Regions from separate parts of the Homo sapiens genome. Here regions 2 and 3 are each linked to region 1. The links come from fine-mapping of genetic effects on gene expression. Tissue or cell type: whole blood. Region 1 holds a variant in brackets; each other region holds the start of a gene. All regions are shown on one strand. Distances are between the middles of the regions.

Evidence for each region. PIP is the estimated chance that this variant, and not a neighbour inherited with it, causes the effect.
Region 2: it holds the start of TBC1D20, and the variant in region 1 is fine-mapped to the expression of TBC1D20 in whole blood (TOPMed, PIP above 0.99).
Region 3: it holds the start of RBCK1, and the variant in region 1 is fine-mapped to the expression of RBCK1 in whole blood (TOPMed, PIP above 0.99).

Annotation. Positions count from the first base shown.
Region 1 is chr20:369,342-375,424 of GRCh38, reverse strand. No RefSeq gene overlaps it. Among named protein-coding and RNA genes, the nearest start is that of TRIB3, 8.4 kb to the left of the region's middle. The variant T/G (reference allele first, on the strand shown) is at 3,422.
Region 2 is chr20:459,058-464,491 of GRCh38, reverse strand. TBC1D20 (TBC1 domain family member 20) reads left to right here and starts at 1,959. Exons shown (of 8, transcript NM_144628.4): 1 at 1,959-2,156. The coding sequence starts at 2,087. RefSeq lists silencers at 1,520-1,589, 1,870-2,359, 2,428-2,576.
Region 3 is chr20:405,661-411,094 of GRCh38, reverse strand. It overlaps RBCK1 (RANBP2-type and C3HC4-type zinc finger containing 1), which reads right to left and starts at 2,796. Exons shown (of 12, transcript NM_031229.4): 1 at 2,316-2,796; 2 at 1,070-1,214. The coding sequence starts at 2,337. RefSeq lists enhancers at 1,819-1,888, 1,899-1,998, 2,059-2,158, 1,568-2,208, 2,209-2,258 and 1 more and silencers at 2,829-3,098, 4,922-5,078.

The DNA of each region.
Region 1 (6,083 bases):
GTTGGAGTAGGTCAGTGAGGTCAGTGTTTTCTGAAATATACCATGTACAACAATGGCTGAGTGCCAGAGGGTTTTAGGGTCTCCAGATACCGTATGACATAACTTTGAATCATAATTGTGATACACTTAAACCCTTTCAGTTTTCTTGCTGTTTCTCCAAAGACTCAGGGAGAAAGTCTCATTTAACAGCTTCTTTTTTTTTTTTTCTTTTTCTTTGAGACGGAGTCTCGCTCTGTCACCCAGGCTAGAGTGCACTGGCGTGATCTCAGCTCACTGCAAGCTCCGCCTCCCGGGTTCACGCCATCCTCCTGCCTCAGCCTCCCCAGTAGCTGGGAATATGGGCGTGTGCCACCACACCCAGCTAATTTTTGTATTTTTGCTAGAGACAGGGTTTCACCATGTTGGCCAGGATGGTCTTGATCTCCTGACCACGTGATCCACCCACCTTGGCCTCCCAGAGTGCTGGGATTACAGGTGTGAGCCACCGCGCCCGGCCAACAGCTTGTATGGTTTTTTTTTTTGTTGTTGTTGTTTTGTTTGTTTTTGAGACGGAGTCTTGCTCTTGCTCTGTCACCCAGGCTGAAATGCAGTGGTATGATCTCAGCTCACTGCAATCTCTGCCTCCCGGGTTCAAGCGATTCTCCTGCCTCAGCCTCCCAAGCAGCTGGGACTACAGGCGCCCGCCACCACGCCCGGCTGATTGTTGTTGTTGTTGTTATTGTTTTTAGTAGAGACGGGGTTTCACCGTGCTAGCCAGGATGGTCTCGATCTCCTGACCTCGTGATCCACTCGCTCGGCCTCCCAAAGTGCTGGGATTACAGGCATGAGCCACCGTGCCCGGCCTCACAGCTTCTATGTTTTTAACACCTCTCTTGTTAAGAATGAGACAGCAGAGTTCAGCTTGGAGCCTTCAGCAAGAAACAGGATTTAGCTGGAATGGAATAACCTGGTTCTGCTTTTTTTGTATGTAATTGTATGCTTACCTCTTCTTTATGGCAAATCATAGTAGTTTTCTATTTGAGGTCAGTGATTTAAAATTTCCATGTTAAATAAATTTAGATAAGTTTTTTAAAATGAGGTGGTTGTGGTCAAGCACAGTGGTCCATGCTTGTAATCCCAGCACTTTGGGAGGCAGAGGTGAGTGGATCACCTGAGGTCAGGAGTTTGAGACCAGCCTGGCCAACATGGCAAAAACCTATCTCCGCTAAAAATACAAAAATTAGCTGGACGTGGTGGCATGCACCTGTAGTCCCAGCTACTTGGGAGGCTGAGGCATGAGAGTCGCTTGAACCCAGGAGGCAGAGATTGCCGTGAGCCGAGATCATACCACTGCACTTCAGCCTGGGTGACAGAGCAAGACTCTGTATAAAAAAATAAATAAAATAAATAAATAAATAAATAAGTAAAAGATGAGCTGGTTGGAAGGAAGACATTATGGAACTAATATAAAAAATAAGTACATGGATTCAGACCAATCAACTTGGGGAAGACAGTGGGTGATTCAAGAATGGCAACTCCAGGGCTGTGATCCTCTCTGGGAGCCCTTATCTAGGAGACCGGGCACCTCCCTTCTCTGGAGGCCCCTGGGGGCTTTGCAGAAATCTCTCACCATCCAGATCACGCTAGGCTGGGCCTAAGGAGAGGCAGGAAGGCCAGCCCGGCGGTTGCCCCAGGGGCGGCCTGGGATTCTTCCTGAGAAAGGCTCTTCTCATGCCTGTGGGTGGAGCCCTGTGTGGGGACCTCCCTTACGTCATCTTGTGTCATCCTCAAACTTCCCCATGAAGCTGCTATTTTTATCCCTGGAGACAGATGAGGAAACCAGGGCTCAGAGCAGTGACATCACTAGTTTAAGGAGGGAGGAGACAGTGGGATTCAGAGCCAGCTGGCCTGGCTCAAAATCCGTGTGGTCTCTTGTCCACTGTCTTGGACAAAGTCACTTAGCTACTCAGACCCACAGCCCTATCTATAAAGTGGGATTGATGACAGTGTTTTCCTGTAGGGTTATTGAACTGCTTATTGTCATTGGGATTTCCCTCCCTCCCTTCCTTCCTTCCTTCCCTCTTTTCTTTTCTTTTCTTTTGAGAGAAGATCTCACTCTGTTGCCCAGGCTGCAGTGCAGTAGGGTGATCATGACTCACTGTAGCCTCAACCTCCCAGGCTCAAGCGATACTCCCGCCTCAGCTTCCTGAGTAGCTGGGACTATGGGCATGCACCACCATGCCTGGCCTGGGAACTGTTATTGGATTAAATGGAGGGTTAAATGGGCTAATACAGGTTAAGTTCACGCTTAGGAGAGTTCCCAGCACATGGTAAGCACTGGAGGGTGAGTGGCTATTATTATTTCCAAGGCCCCAGGGCTGCTGCACCTCCTTCCCCAGCAAACACACCCAGTGAGAGCTGAGGATAAAGGGGGAGGTGGGGACACACTTCCTGAGAGTGGCCCATGTGGAGCCTAAGCTGTGCCTTCCAGTGCTTCCTCATGTCAGCCTCACCACAGCCCTGTGAGCTAAGGATGCATTTACGCCCACTTTGCAAGTGAGCAAATCCAGTGTCAAAGAGTGAAAGTAACCTGCCCAGCGTTACACAGCTAGCCAGTGTGGCTTTTTGAGACGGAGTCTCACTCTCACCTAGGAGTGCGGTGGCATGATCTCAGCCCACTGCAACCTCCGCCTCCCGGGTTCAAGCGATTCTCACGCTTCTGCCTCCTGAGTAGCTGGGATTACAGGCGTGTGCCACCACGCCTGGCTAGTTTTTGTATTTTTAGTAGAGATGGGGTTTTACCATGTTGGCCAGGCTGGTCTCAAACTCCTGACCACAAGTGATCTGCCTGCCTCAGCCTCCCAAAGTGTTGGGATTACAGTCATGAGCCACCGTGCCTGGCCTGGGATTTAAACCCAGGTCTGCGTGGTTCCAAAGTCCACGTCATTCCACCATTTCAGGAGCCTCAACAGGATTGACGGGAGGTTCCTGGGGAAGTCCCGTGTCCTCCTCAAGGGTGAAGGGTTCTCTCTTTCTGTGTAGTGGAAATAGCTAGATCATAGCCATGGGCTGAAGACAGCTGGTCTGGTTCTGACCTTGCCTCTGACCTTGGGCAGCTACAGGTCTCTCCCTGGGCTTAGGCACATAATTGCTGCTTTGTATGTATAAGGGGTTAGGATCTCCAAACTTCCAGGGATCCTGATTCTCTTTCTCGCCTCTCAGCTGGAGGATGAGGGAGCCCCAGATCTGCCAGCTCCCAGTGCTGGACGCATTGCTGAGTCACCTGACCTTCCTTCCTTCCTGCCTGCCTTCCTGCCTTCCTTTTGCCTGCAGGTCCTGAAGCCATCAAAGGCCAGAGAAGGAAGGGGATTATATGTTCAGTCTGGATAACTGCCCAGGCCTTGCCTTTCTGAGAAAAGCTTGGGGGGTGGGGGTGGAATGC[T/G]GAAGCACTCAGCCAGTTGCATCAGAAAACCTTGCGCAAGGCGCCCTCCTGGGTCCAGCACTGAGCCCTGTCCCATAGTCCCCACCCCTACCCTGTCCCCTGAGGTGCCAGAATGAGGACTGTTCAGCCTTGCGAGGGACACTGAGCAAGGCCAGGCTGTCAGGGAGTGATGGAGGAAGTTGAGGGATGAAGGAAGGCTTTGGGGCCAGTGCTGAGAGGGCTTAGGCCGCCTGGGTGAAGGAACTTGAGCTGGAAGTTGCTCCTCAGGACATTTAGATCCAACTCATCCACCTGGCTTCTCTCCCAAAGAAGAGGAGACAAGGCCAGTGCCCTGGACACTAACTGACCCAGATCCTTGACTGTGGTCCTAGGGTGAACCCTATTGCCTGACTTTGCACTTCAACTGCACTCTGGCCTGAAACCTTGAACATGGTCTGACCTGTGATCACTAAGCCCTGGGCCGTAGCCACAGCTAACGCCGACCCAGGTCCCAAACTGAACGGTGTCTTGGTCACTTTTTCCCCACATGATCCATAAACTGAATTTGAATTCTAGCTCCTGATTGAGTTATAACCCTGGAGATAGATTTAGCTCTAATCCATCATGTGTGACCCCAGGCCCCAGATAAACCCCAACTGTAGCCCCAGATACCCTAGCCATAGATTCTCTCTCTGGTCTCAACAGGGCAGTGCTCAGGCACAGGAATCAAGAGCTTGGCACCTGCTCCCCTCCCCTCTGGGCTGCTCCCCATACCCCCCCAGGTCGAGGAAGGCTGAGGGGCTGGACTGAACATGGGACAGCCCCCTGACCAGCCTGACTGTGACTCAGCAGGGTGGGAGCTGGAGGTAGAGTCAGGCAGGACCACTGGGGATAGGCCAGGCAGGTGCTGAGTCAGGGCAGGGAGAGAGGGACAGTCTCTGAGTGCAGAGCTGGTCTGGGATGTGGGATGGTACATGTGGTCCGACAGGCCCTTTAAGGTAAAGCAGCTCCAGTCCTGAAGCCAGGCCCTTTAAGGCAAATAACCCCGATCCTATCCATCTCCATCTACCCATTTATTGTCCATTTTTCCATCACTTATCCATATTATTCTCTCCCAGAGCATCCTGTTCTTTTCCACCAGAACACTTAACTATAATTGGAATTATGTATGTATTTGTTATTTGTTTAGTGTCTGCCTCACCCACTGAACTACAGGCTCCCTTAGGACAGGCACCTTGCCTGTGTGGCTCACCAGTGTCTCTAGCACCTCATACAGTGCCTGGCACACGGCAAGTGGTCAGTAAATAGTAGTTGAAGAGATTAAATCCCTCCACCCATCTATTCATTCCTTTTCCATCTATGAATTATTATTTTATAATGCATCCCCACCATCTAGCCATTCGAATTTCTCGCTGTTCTTTCATCTACCCTCCATCCGACAAGCATCCATCCATCCACCTACATAGCTTTCCCATATCAATCCATGCTATTTATAGAATCATCCGTTTCTTCAACAAATATTTACTGAGTACCTACTACTTGCCAGGCAACATTCCAAAGGCTAGGGATACTACAGTGAAAATAACAGACAAAAGTGGCGCTTACATTCCATTAGAAGGAAAAGTGCAGCCAGGCACAGCGGCTCACACCCGCAATCCCAGTACTTCGGGAGGCTGAGGCGGGAGGATCACTTGAGCCTAGGAGTTTTAGACTAGCTTAGGCAACATGGTGAAACCTCATCTCTACAAAAAAGTACAACAACTAGCCAGGCATGGTGGTGAGTGCCTGTAGTCCCAGCTACTCAGGAGGCAGAGGAGGGAGGATGGCCTGAGCCAGGTAGGCCAAGATTTCAGTGAGCTGAGATCATGCTGCTGCACTCCAGACTGGGCAACAGAGTGAGACCCTGTCTCAAAAAAAAAAAGAAAGAAACATGCAAGAAATAATTACCATAATAAGTACATTGTAGCACATGTTAGGGGGTGACGAATGCAAGGGAAAAAAAGAGTAAGTACAGAGATGAGGAGTGTTGGGTGGGCAGGCAGTGGCTGTATTGAGTGGAGTGTTCAGTGGATGCCCTGAGACTATCCGAAGGGCAAATTCTTCAGGAAGAGGAACAGCTCATGCAAAAGCTCCAAAAGGAAGCTGACTAGCTGACTGGTGTGCCATCGGAGAAGGTCAATGTGGCTGGAGTGCAGCCAGTGACAGGGAGGCGGTGGGAGATGAGGTCAGAGAGGTAAAGGGGGTTCAGATAATCTGGAGCTTTGGAGGCCTTTGAAAGGACGCTGAGGAGTCATGGGGAGGCAGGGGAGGGTTTAAGGAGAGGAGGGAAGTGATCTCACTTACCTTTTTTTTTTTTTTTTTTTTTTTGAGATGGAGTCTCGCTCCTGTCATGCAGGCTGGAGTGCAGTGGCGCGATCTTGGCTCACTGCAACCTCCACCTCCTGGGTTCCAGTGATTCTTCTTCCTTAGCCTCCTGAGTAGCTGGGACTACAGGCGTGCATCACCTTGCCCGGCTAATTTTTGTATTTTTAGTAGAGATGGGGTTTCATCATGTTGGCCAGGCTGGTCTCGAACTCCTGACCTCAGGTGATTCACCCGCCTCAGCCTCCCAAAGTGCTAAGATTACAGGGTGAGCCACCATGCCCAGCCATTTTTTTTCTTTTTTTTAAGTACAGACAGGGTT
Region 2 (5,434 bases), 89 kb before region 1:
TATCTCAAATTGCTTGAGCACGTTACTCTTAAACTGGGATGACTTAAATCTTCCTTCAGTGGGCACTAAGCATCTTTTAACCTCAATGATGATTTATTTCATTTTATTTATTTATTTTTTGAGATGGAGTCTCACTCCGTCTCTTAGGCTGGAGTGCAGTGGCGCAATCTTGGCTCACTGCAACCTCTGCCTCCCAGGTTCAAGCAATTCTCCTGCCTCAGCCTCCCAAGTAGCTGGGATTACAGGCAGGCACCACCATGCCCAGCTAATTTTTGTATTTTTAGTAGAGATGGGGTTTCACCATGTTGGTGAGGCTGGTCTTGAACTCCTGACCTCAAGTGATCTGCAGCCCTTCACCTCCCAAAGTGCTGGGATTACAGGCATGAGCCTCACAGATGATTTAGAACAAAGACTAGAAATGTTTTCAAACTTCTAGTATTAATAATTTTGCATTAAGGCATCTGTGTAAATGTGATACTTTAAATTCCTATAATGTTCAAGATAATTTCAAGAGCTTGGCACTGTGATTCACGCCTGTAATCCCAGAGCTTTGGGAGGCGAAGGCAGTTTGAGACCGGCCTGGGCAACATAGGGAGATTCCCCACCCCCTCTATAAAAACTAAAAAAACTAGCCAGGCATGGTAGTGTGTACCTACAGTCTCAGCTACTCGGGAGGCTGCAACAGGAGGCTAGCTTGAGCCCAGGAGCTTGAGGCTGCAGTGAGCTATGATCGCTATTGCACTCCAGTCTGGGTGATAGAGTGAGACTCTGTCTCAAAAAAAAAAAAAAGATAATTTTGAGAATTCTAACAGATTATTCTTGTACTAATTACAAATATGTATTTGAATAGATTTAGACTTTTGATTTTAAGATGAAATCTCGTTTGTATTGACACATTTGAAAGCACTCATGACTCAGTATTCTTATAAATGTATTACATTTACAAGAATTACACAAGGACTTGAAAGGCTTTGTTAGAAACCTGTGATACTTAGAAAAACGAATTGAATTTATAAATGCAGTTTCAAATGTTCAAAGGATTTTAATTAGCTTAGTTTATTAATGGGACCAAATAACTGATATAATTTACTAGATTTATGAATAGAACTGTAAAACTTGGCTGTGCGCGGTGGCTCACGCCTGTAATCCCAGCACTTTGAGAGGCTGAGGCGGGCGGATCACGAGGTCAGGAGTTTCATGGGCTGGAGGTCTCAGGATAATAAAGAACTGTTGTGGTTGGGGGTGGGAGGTGGAAGAGAGTCATCAAGCAACTGGAATTATGGGAACTTCAGCATGAAGACCTAGCACTAGAAATTCGGGAGGCCACAATCACAATATCAGGGATATAACCAAGGGAATGGATGTCTAATTGGAAAGAAAGGAATATCACTGAAGACGAGAAGGAAATCAGACCTGATAAGCCAGAGCGCTGCTTTAGATGAGTGGCCACTATTTCGCACAACTTAAGGGGGCACGGTTCACGTGAACGTCTACGTAAATGGCGCTCCCAGGCCTTGTGCAGTGCATAACCTGCGGACCCGTATGACATGAACCTGCTAGATCCCCAAGTACCCAAGAACTGATGACAGGAGTTCGTGTGGGGAGACGAGACAGGAGGTAAAAAAATAATCCTTGGTAAGCAAAAATTGGTCATAATTGTGGAGTATTTACTATATGCTTGGTGATGTTCTAAACACTCTCAATAACCTTGTGAGTTCAATATTTTTATTATCATCAATACTATTTTACAGATGAAAGAAGCAAAGGAAACGACAGCTGGTCTCGAGCACACTCGCTCAAGAGCGCCACACTCTACACCGTAGAGTCTACAGCGCAGACGAAGCCAACTCCTCAGAGCGCTCACCGCGCTCTTTCCGCAGCCTCCCCCGCCGCCGGCCGGGCGTAGCGCAGGGTCACGTGCCGGCGCGGGGCGGGGCCAGCGGGGCGCCTGCGCGCCTGCGCGCCGCTGGCCGACGGAGGGGAGCCTGCCGATGCCGAGCGGGTGCTACGTCCCGCGGTCGGAGCCGCGTCTTCTCCCGGCTCCGCCACCAGCCGGGGCTCGGGTGGGGGCCCGGGGCCCCGGGGCATGGCCCTCCGGAGTGCGCAGGGCGACGGCCCCACCTCCGGCCACTGGGACGGCGGCGCGGAGAAGGCAGGTACGGAAGCCGACCGGGGCGCCGGGAGCGGCCTGCGAGGGCGGCCCGGGGGGCAGGGGCAGCTGGCGGAGGCGGCGCCGGAGGGGCGCGGGCTGGGGACCCGGGGCTGCTGCGGGGTTCCGGGCGGCGAGAGGAACAGGCTGAGGGCCCAGGGCACGTCTGATGAGGAGAGGGCCTGGAACTGGGGGGGCTCGGGCGGGTGCCGAGCTGACCCGAGGGAGCCTGGCGGCAGAGTCGCGTCCCCAGGCAGAAGAGCGGGCGGCGGCTTCGCGCCCCGGCTTTCTTCCATCTGGAGAGGACTGGGACTCCTCGAGCGCGGAGGCCAGGCCCACCCCGTCCCAGGCGTCCGCCACGTCCGCAGGCTCCCGGAGCCGCCTCCCCGAGGGGTATCAGCTCTCCCGAACTGCATTCACCGTCGCCGGCTTGATTGACGCGCTGCCCGCGTACCGCCGATGTAATTACCACACAGTTCTTCCTTTAAGGTGCACAGTTCAGTGATTCTTAGAAAATTCACAAAGTTGTGCAGCCATCGCCGCTGTCTGATTCCAAAACGAAACCCTTACCCATTAATAGGCACTCCGCGTTCCCCGGTATTCACGACGCCTGGCAACCACGAATCGACTTTCTGTCTGTCTTCTGCCACCTATTTTAATGTTATTCAATTGTGTAAAAGCGGCCGGGCACCATGGCTCGCGCCTGTAATCCCAGCGCTTTGGGAGGCCATGGTTGGAGGATCGATTGAGGCCAGGATTTCGAGATCAGGCTGGGAAACACAGCGAGGCCTCATCTCTACAAAAAGTTTTTAAAAGTTAGTCGGGTGTGGAGGCTCGAGCCTGTGATCCCAACGACTCTGGAGGCTGAGGCAGGAGGATCGCTTGAGCCCAGGACTTAGAGGCTACTCTATGATTGCGCCACTGCACTCCGGCCTGGGTGACAGATGGAGACCCTATCTCAATAATAATAATAAGTAAATAATTGTATAAAAAGCGCTTCTATTTTTATACTCTTTTAGTTTGGACAATTTCTGTGAAATCATGTTTTTGTTGCACATGATGTTCTCAAATGTTTTTCATTCAATAAATACATGACAGTTAAAATTATGAATGTACACCGTGAACCAAGTTAAATAATCTTTTTTCCTTGAGGAAGACTAAGGTGACTTTCCCTATTTCCAGTCCTCTGATGGATGGTGCCCGTAACAGAGCCAAACACGTTATTAATACAACCCACATATTTTGAGGAAGCTCCTGGTATCTATATTTTATTTTATATTTTATTTGGGCTCATTTTCTGTTTTTCCCTTTTTCTTATGTTCTGATACTGAATGGAAGTGGAGCTCTGAACCCTTTGGCACCGTAACCCTTTAATTACTGGTGTTTGTGTGATGTCTGTCCTCATGGCATAACAGTCAATGCCCTAGGCAGCATGGGTCTTGTGACCTGTTGGCAGTGCAGCTGTGTATCTGTTGCAAGACTTTACCCCCTCTAGTTTCCTTGATTTTGCTTCTCTGGATGAATGGGACAAATTTAAAGATGAGGTTTTTTGTTTTTGTTATTGTTTTGTTTTTTAATCATATCAGAGTATTGTTGGCAAAGTTACTAATGCTAGAATCCCTCTTTTGTAGCGTTTATAGTCAGATTGGTTTACTTACTAGACTGTTTTTTTCCATTGTAGTGAAACATTCTTTCTTGGTACCTGCTTTTTCCAGGTAGTTAACAGAATCTTTGCTAATTTGGATACTGTTTTGTAGAAACTACTAATGAAGACCTCCAGAAACAGAGGCTAGTTTGTTTTATTTTGTGTTTAATAGAACTCTTACCCAGACTGAAATAAGGTTTTCCTCTCCTGCTGTGGTCTTCTGGTACAGACGTGGAGTTAAAGCATTTTTTTTTTTTTTTTTTGAGAGATGGGATCTTGCCCTGTCACCCGGGTTGGAGTGCAGTGTCACAGTCAAAGCTCACTGTCATCTCCCAACTCCTGGACTTAAGTGCTCCTCCCACCTCAGCCTCCTGAGTAGCTGGGACTACAGGCATAAATTTTCAAGTTAATTTCCAATGTCAATATCAGTAGTTGTGGGTGGGTGTAGGGGTATGTCTGTCTCCCTCCCTCCACACAAAACGGCCCCCCCCTTCCATTGTTTTAAGACTAGCATTTCTTAATTTGAGCTTAATTTCAGTTTAAAGACTGTAAAGCCTTTATGATAATGCAGGCTTAAACCAAATAATCAGTATGGAATTTTGTACGCTCACACGAGATTCCATTATATAAATTAGTTGATCCAAGTTAGTATTTGTTTTGGTGATATGAAAAAATATATGAAAAAACTTTTAGAGGAGGCATGGATAGTGGTCATCTTTAGTTGTTATCGTCCCTTCCCAGTGTATTAAGTGCCCTAATCCAGGTGATTTTGGACATGCCTATTACTCTGAGGGGGCAGAAATCTTTACCTGGATTCTGTAGCCAGAGTTGGGAGAAGTTTAAGCCAATAGTGGGTTGTGTCATCTTTATCTGAACCATTAAGAACCACAGTTCAGATGAAGTGTCCCATTGTTAAAATTAGCATTTTAGGGAGTTGAGTCTGATCTCCCTCCCTGACTACAAAACCCTGTTGCAGTTGTTGCTATACCTATTGCTGTGGTGCCCCTCAAATAAAGTCTGCTTTGCCCTCTTTATAAATAAATAAATAAATAAATAAAAATAAGCGTTCTAATGAAGAGTAGGCCAAAGTCATACCTATCTTCCTTTGTTGAATGAATTACTTTTCAGGCATCAGGGATTTATTTATAGCAGTCTTATATTTTGCAGCCAGCTGTAGGACGGTCATTCGTTCCATCATGGTTATGATAGCCAAGACCTCTACTATAAAGGAATTTGGAAGGTATCAGCTTTGGAATAATAGTGCACTATCTTGTAAGTGGGGCAATAAAGAAATTGGAGAAGAAAGGATTGAGGGAGATTAGAATGACATACATTCTACCTCTAGATGAAATGTGGGCTTTTATTCCAAGCCAGATACAGCGTTCTCAAGTCCAGAAATGTGTGTCCTGCTCTAAATCTATAAAGTTTATCTCGAAATACAATAGATAATAGGCATTTATTTTAATCTTTTCCTGAACATCCCAAGAATAGCTCTATGATGTTTCTCTTTCGGAAATAAACAGGATGTCTGTGAATTTGTCTTTCAGTGGAGACGCTGCTAACTCCCTCCCTGTGTCGTCTAGCAGTTGATCTCACTCTGTAATTCATACATCTTTAGCTCACTTGAATTTTCTGTTTCC
Region 3 (5,434 bases), 36 kb before region 1:
GTAGATCCCTAGAGATAAAAAGTAGATTAGTGGTTGCCTAAGGTTGGGGAGTTAGGGAAAAGGTAGAGAGATGAGGACTGGCTGCTAATGAGTACCAGGTTTCTTTACAGGATGATGAAAATGTTCTAAAATTGATTGTGGCAATGGTTGCACAACCTTGAATATACTAAAAGCCATTGAACTGTATACTTTAAATGGTCGAACTGTAAGGATAAATAAATAAATAAAACTGTTTTAAGAAAAACCAAATGGGACCCACCAAGAGAACCAAAAATCAGAAACCATAAAACTATTGCCTTACTATCCAGTAATGAAAAAGCAGTCAAAAAATAACGATAGACACTAATGTTTATTATTGAGTGCATAACACGCCAGGCATTGTGCAAAGTGTTTCAGCATTGAGTTTAAGTCTCCTGGAGCACAGACCGACAGTATCCATTCTCTTCCCTTCCCTTACCAAGCGAACCCCTGAATTCTAGCTGAATATCTTGGCTATACAGTCTCCCCTCAAGCTGAACTGTAGCTGTGGGAATCAGTTCTGGTCCACAGGAATTAACGGAAGAAGTGTGTACAATTTTTGAGCTATGCTCTTTAGAAGAGTGTGGAGGGGTGTCTTTCTTCCCTTCCTCCTGTGATGTGATGGCTGGATGGAGCTGGAATGGCCATTTTGCACCATGAGGAATCTGGGAATGAATGGCAGAATGGTGAGAGAAACAATATGAGCCTCTGAGGACTGTCGGGAGCAGAACCTCCCTATCTGGACTCCCTGCCATCAAATTTGTTTACGTCACTGTTCCGTTTTCTTCTGTTGTATAAGGCCTAACATCCTAATACAGTACACCTCCTAACAACCCTATGAGATAGCTACTGTTACGGTCTGATTTTTAAAATGAGGACACACTGAGAGGTGAAGTGACCTGCTCTGTATTTCACAGTTGATTAATGACATAACTAGGGTTAGAAGCCAGGCCTCCTGAAGCCAGAACGTGCCATTAGGAAGAACTGTTCTACAGGCAAGAATATCCTGTCCTGCTGTCCCTTGGGTTCAGGCCAGCCATGCACTCCTCACCTGATGTCCTGCGTTGGGGAGACCTCAGGCTTCAGTTGCACACTCAGGGGCACCCGTTGCTCTGCCAGCCAGATGGCACACTTCATTGCCACCTGTTCATCCCCGCCCGCCACTGCTCGGGTGAGGCTCAGGGCCATTTCCTCTGCTGAAAGCCAGTACAGCAGGAGCCAGTTAGCACAGGGTTTATTTTCAGGAGCTGAGAGTAATGGGGTAGGAAAGGAGGCGATCCTTTGTGTGTGCTGCTTTCTCTGTCTTCCTGGTGAACTCCTACGTATCCTTCAGCACCCAGACTAAAAGTCCCTTTCTCCGGGAGGGGTTCTCTAATATTCCCCACTCCTCCTCACACTAGGCTCATTTGGTTGTTTGTCCTTCCCATTCCCAGGGTCCCTCATATTTCTATTCATTTATCCAACAAGCAGTTATTGAGCTTCTACTGTGTGCCACCCACTGTCCCAGGAACTGGAATCCCACAGAGATTTATAAACAGGGCCCCTCTCCTTATGGATCTCCCTGCCCAGTGGGGAGACAATGAACAAGTTTAACAAGAAAAAAAAAAAAAGTCAGATTGCGATCCTTGCTGGCAGGGAAATAAACAGGTTAAGGAGACCAGGGGAGGCCTCTGGGAGGGGGTAACACTGAAGCTAAGACCTGAAGGAGGAGAAGCTGCACGTGTCAAGCTCCAGTGGGGAAGAGTGGTCCAGGTGGAAGGAAGAGTAAGGGCCTTGGCCAAAAAATGGTTGGATGAGAACCGAAGGAAGCCAGTGGGGCTCCAGTAGAGTGAGCATGGCGGGGTGACTGAGGACAGATATCCTGTGGGCCACCCAGGGCCTCTGGGTTTTGTTTGGAGAACACAGAGGGGCATGGGAGGGTTTCCAGCAAGGCAGTGACTGACTTCCGTTCTACAACCCTAGGTGCAGGGGACAAGAGAAGAGGCAAGTACCCCTGCTTCTCAGGTCAACTGACGTCTGTCTCCCACCAGCCCAGGAGGTCTCCAAGTTCAATGCCCTGTGTCCTCTGCGAGTCCCCTAGCCCCATCTCAGCACAGAGCCAGCCCAAGGAGTTCTCAGGGCCCCAAGATGGCTCTGGAAGCCAGCAGGTACCAAAGGAGGAAACTGATGGGGAGGAGGGTAGAGGGAGGGCAGGCTAAAGCCCCCTCTCCAAGGCCCTTCTGGCCAGGGGCAAGGCCAGGTCCTGCGGGGCCCACTTCCCACCGGAAGTTCCCCAGCCACCTCCAGCCTGTGCCCACCTTTCTTGGTCTTCTCGTCCATCTGGCGTGGCTGTGCCCATCCCCCTGGGGGGGACCGTGCCTCCTGGGAAATGCTACCTCCGGGTCGCCTGGGAGAGGCGGGAGACCAGGAGCAACTCAGCCAGGCCGTGTGGCCTCCGGCGCGGCCCAAGCCCTGTGTGTGCCTCGCTGTCCCCGCGGCAGTCGGGAAGCATCACACTGCCCGGTGACCAGGCCGGGATCCTGCGTGGGGCGGTGAGAGGGCAGCGGGCGCCGAGACAGGTCCGCACTGGGCGCAGGAGGAAACGGGACCAGCCGAGGTGGGAAGAAGCGGGGAAAGGACGCCCGGACACCACCCAGCCGGGGCGTTCCAAGTCCCGGAGGACCCCCACTTGCGGGAGCGCCCCTGGCGTCCCGGGTTTCAAGGCAAAGCCCTCTCTCCTCCCGGGAGGCCCCAGTTCTTCGCAAGGGGAGCGGCTTCGGCGGAAGAGAAAGTGAAAGTGGCGGCCCCGGAAGTGGGGCGGGACTGGGAGGGGGGGCCGGAAAAATTGTCGCCTCATCCGGGACCTCCACTGCCCGGCTACCCGGCGGCGGCGGACGCCGAGTGCGGGGTCCCAGCGGTCCCGGCGCTCCTGTTTGGGGCGACCCCACCCCGTCCTCCGGGGCTGATCGCGGGTCCCCGGACTCCCGCCCGGGTCACCCTGCGGGCCGCATCGCAGAGCCGCGGGAAGGAGCTGGGCCGCAGGCGGGGTGGGCGGGGCCGGGGCGGGGCCGGGGGCGGGGCCGGGGGGGCCGGGGGCTGGGGGCGGGGCCGGGGTGGGCCGGGGGCCGGGGCCGGGGCCGGGGGCGGGGCCGGGGGCAGGAGCAGGAGCCTGAGCAGGAGTCGGCGCCGGAGCCGGGGCTGGAGGGCGGCGGGATCCACAGCGTCGAGCCGCTGGGGACGGGTTAGGAGCGCGCCCTGCGAGCCCGGCGCCTGCTCACCCAAGCCTCAGGCATACCTCGGGGCAGGCCCGGTCCTTGGCCCCGTTTGCACATGAATAAACGAAGGCTCTGTTTGTTGATGACCTGTCCAAGGCCACTCAGCCGAGGTTTGAATCCAGGCCTGGCAGGCTCAGGAACCCGCCCTTACCCAGATCCGACGCTGCCTCTCAGCGGTCACCGTCTGTCTTTTCGTTGAGCTATTGGTGAAGTTTGCATTCGTCTGCCTCATGCGCCGCTTTAATTTTTCTCCCGTTCCTCGTCCCATCGATCAGCAGATCCTGCGGGCTCCACTTGCAGAATCTCATCCCTCACCTCCTCCGGCCCCATCCCGCTCCAGCTCCATCAGTGCTCCATCATCTCAGGGGTCTTGAACCAGCCTCCTCCTGGGCCTCCTTGCTTCTCTTTTTGCCCCCTACCGTCCATTTCCACCTAGCTGCCGGAGAGTCCTGTTAAAATGTAAATCAAACCCATGCCACTCCCCGACCCAAGTACTCCCATCTCACTTAAAGCAAAATCCGAGATCTGTCCCAGGGCTCGCAAATTGCCTCCCGATCTCTGTCTTCGTAGCTGACTGCCCTGCCCCTGCCTCATTCCACTCAAGTCCCATTGACCTGCTGGGTCCTGGAGTAAGTCAGACACACTCCCGCCCTAAGGCCTTTGCACCTGCCATAACCCAAACGTCTGCATGGCTCCCTCCTTCCCTTTATTTTGGTCTTTACCCAAAAATCTTCCCTAGTTACTCCATCTGAAATTTCACAGACACACGTATCCAGCATTTCACATCCGCTTTCCTGGCTTCATTTTTTCTTCTCAGCATCTATTACTGTCTAACGGAGCATGTTTTACTTATTTATGTTATTCTGGGTCTGTTTTCCTCTCCTAGAGGGCAGGGACTTTGGTTTGTTTTGCTCACTGCTGTGTTCCTGGTGTCTAGAACAGTTCCAAACACATAATGGAGGCTCCATATGTTGAATGAAGGAATGAACCTCAGACCTTCATCTGGGATAATTTTTCTTTTGCCGGAAACACATCCCTTTAGACAATGTTTCTTAACTTTGGCTGTACATTTGAATGGCCTGGGGAAGCCTTTTTTTTTTTTTTTTTTTTTTTTGAGATGGAGTTTCACTCTTGTTGCCCAGGCTGGAGTGCAGTGGCGTGATCATGGCTCACTACAGCCTCCAACTCCTGGGCTCAGCTTCCCGAGTAGCTGCAAACCACGGGCACGTGCCACCACAGCTGGCTAATTTTTGTAGAGACAGGGTTTGGTCATGTTGCCCAGGCTGGTCTTGAACTCCTGGGCTCAAATGATCTGCCCACCTCGGCCTCCCAAAATGCTGGGAAATGGTTGCTGTTGAGATATCATCACCTGTCAATCTAACTGCTGTTCTTTTTATAAACAGCTTTATTGAGATATCATCACCTGTCAATCTAACTGCTGTTCTTTTTATAAACAGCTTTATTGAGATATAATTTATATGCCATAAAATCCACCCACCTAAAATATACAATTCAATAGTTTTTAGTAACATTTACAGAATTGTACACCCATCATCACAATCAAATTTTAGGACATTTTTGGCTGAGCATGGTGGCTCACACCTACAATCCCAGCACTTTGAGAGGCCGAGGTGGGCGGATCACTTGAGGTCAGGAGTTCGAGACCAGCCTGGCCAACATGGTGAAACCCTGTCTCTACTAAAAATACAAAAATTAGCCAGGTGTGGTGGCGGACATCTGTAATCCTAGCTACTGCAGAGCCTGAGGCATGAGAATGGCTTGAACCTGGGAGGCAGAGGTTGCAGTGAGCTGAGATCGCACCGTTGTACTCCAGCCTGCGTGATAGAGCGAGACTCTGTCTCAGACCAAAAAAAAAAAAAGAAAGAAAGAACATTCTTATCACCCCAAAATAGACCTGTACTCATTAGCAGACATTCCCTGTTTCCCATCCTCCAACTGACAGCACTAATATACTTTATGTCTCTATAGACTTTCCTCTTCTTGATATTTTATAGAAATTAGATCTTACTGATGGGCCACAGTGGCTCATGCCAGTAATCCCAGCACTTGGGGAGGCCAAGCCAGGTGGATCGCTTGAGCCCAGGAATTCAAGACCAGCCTGGGCAACATGGTGAAACCCCATCTCTACAAAAAATACAAAA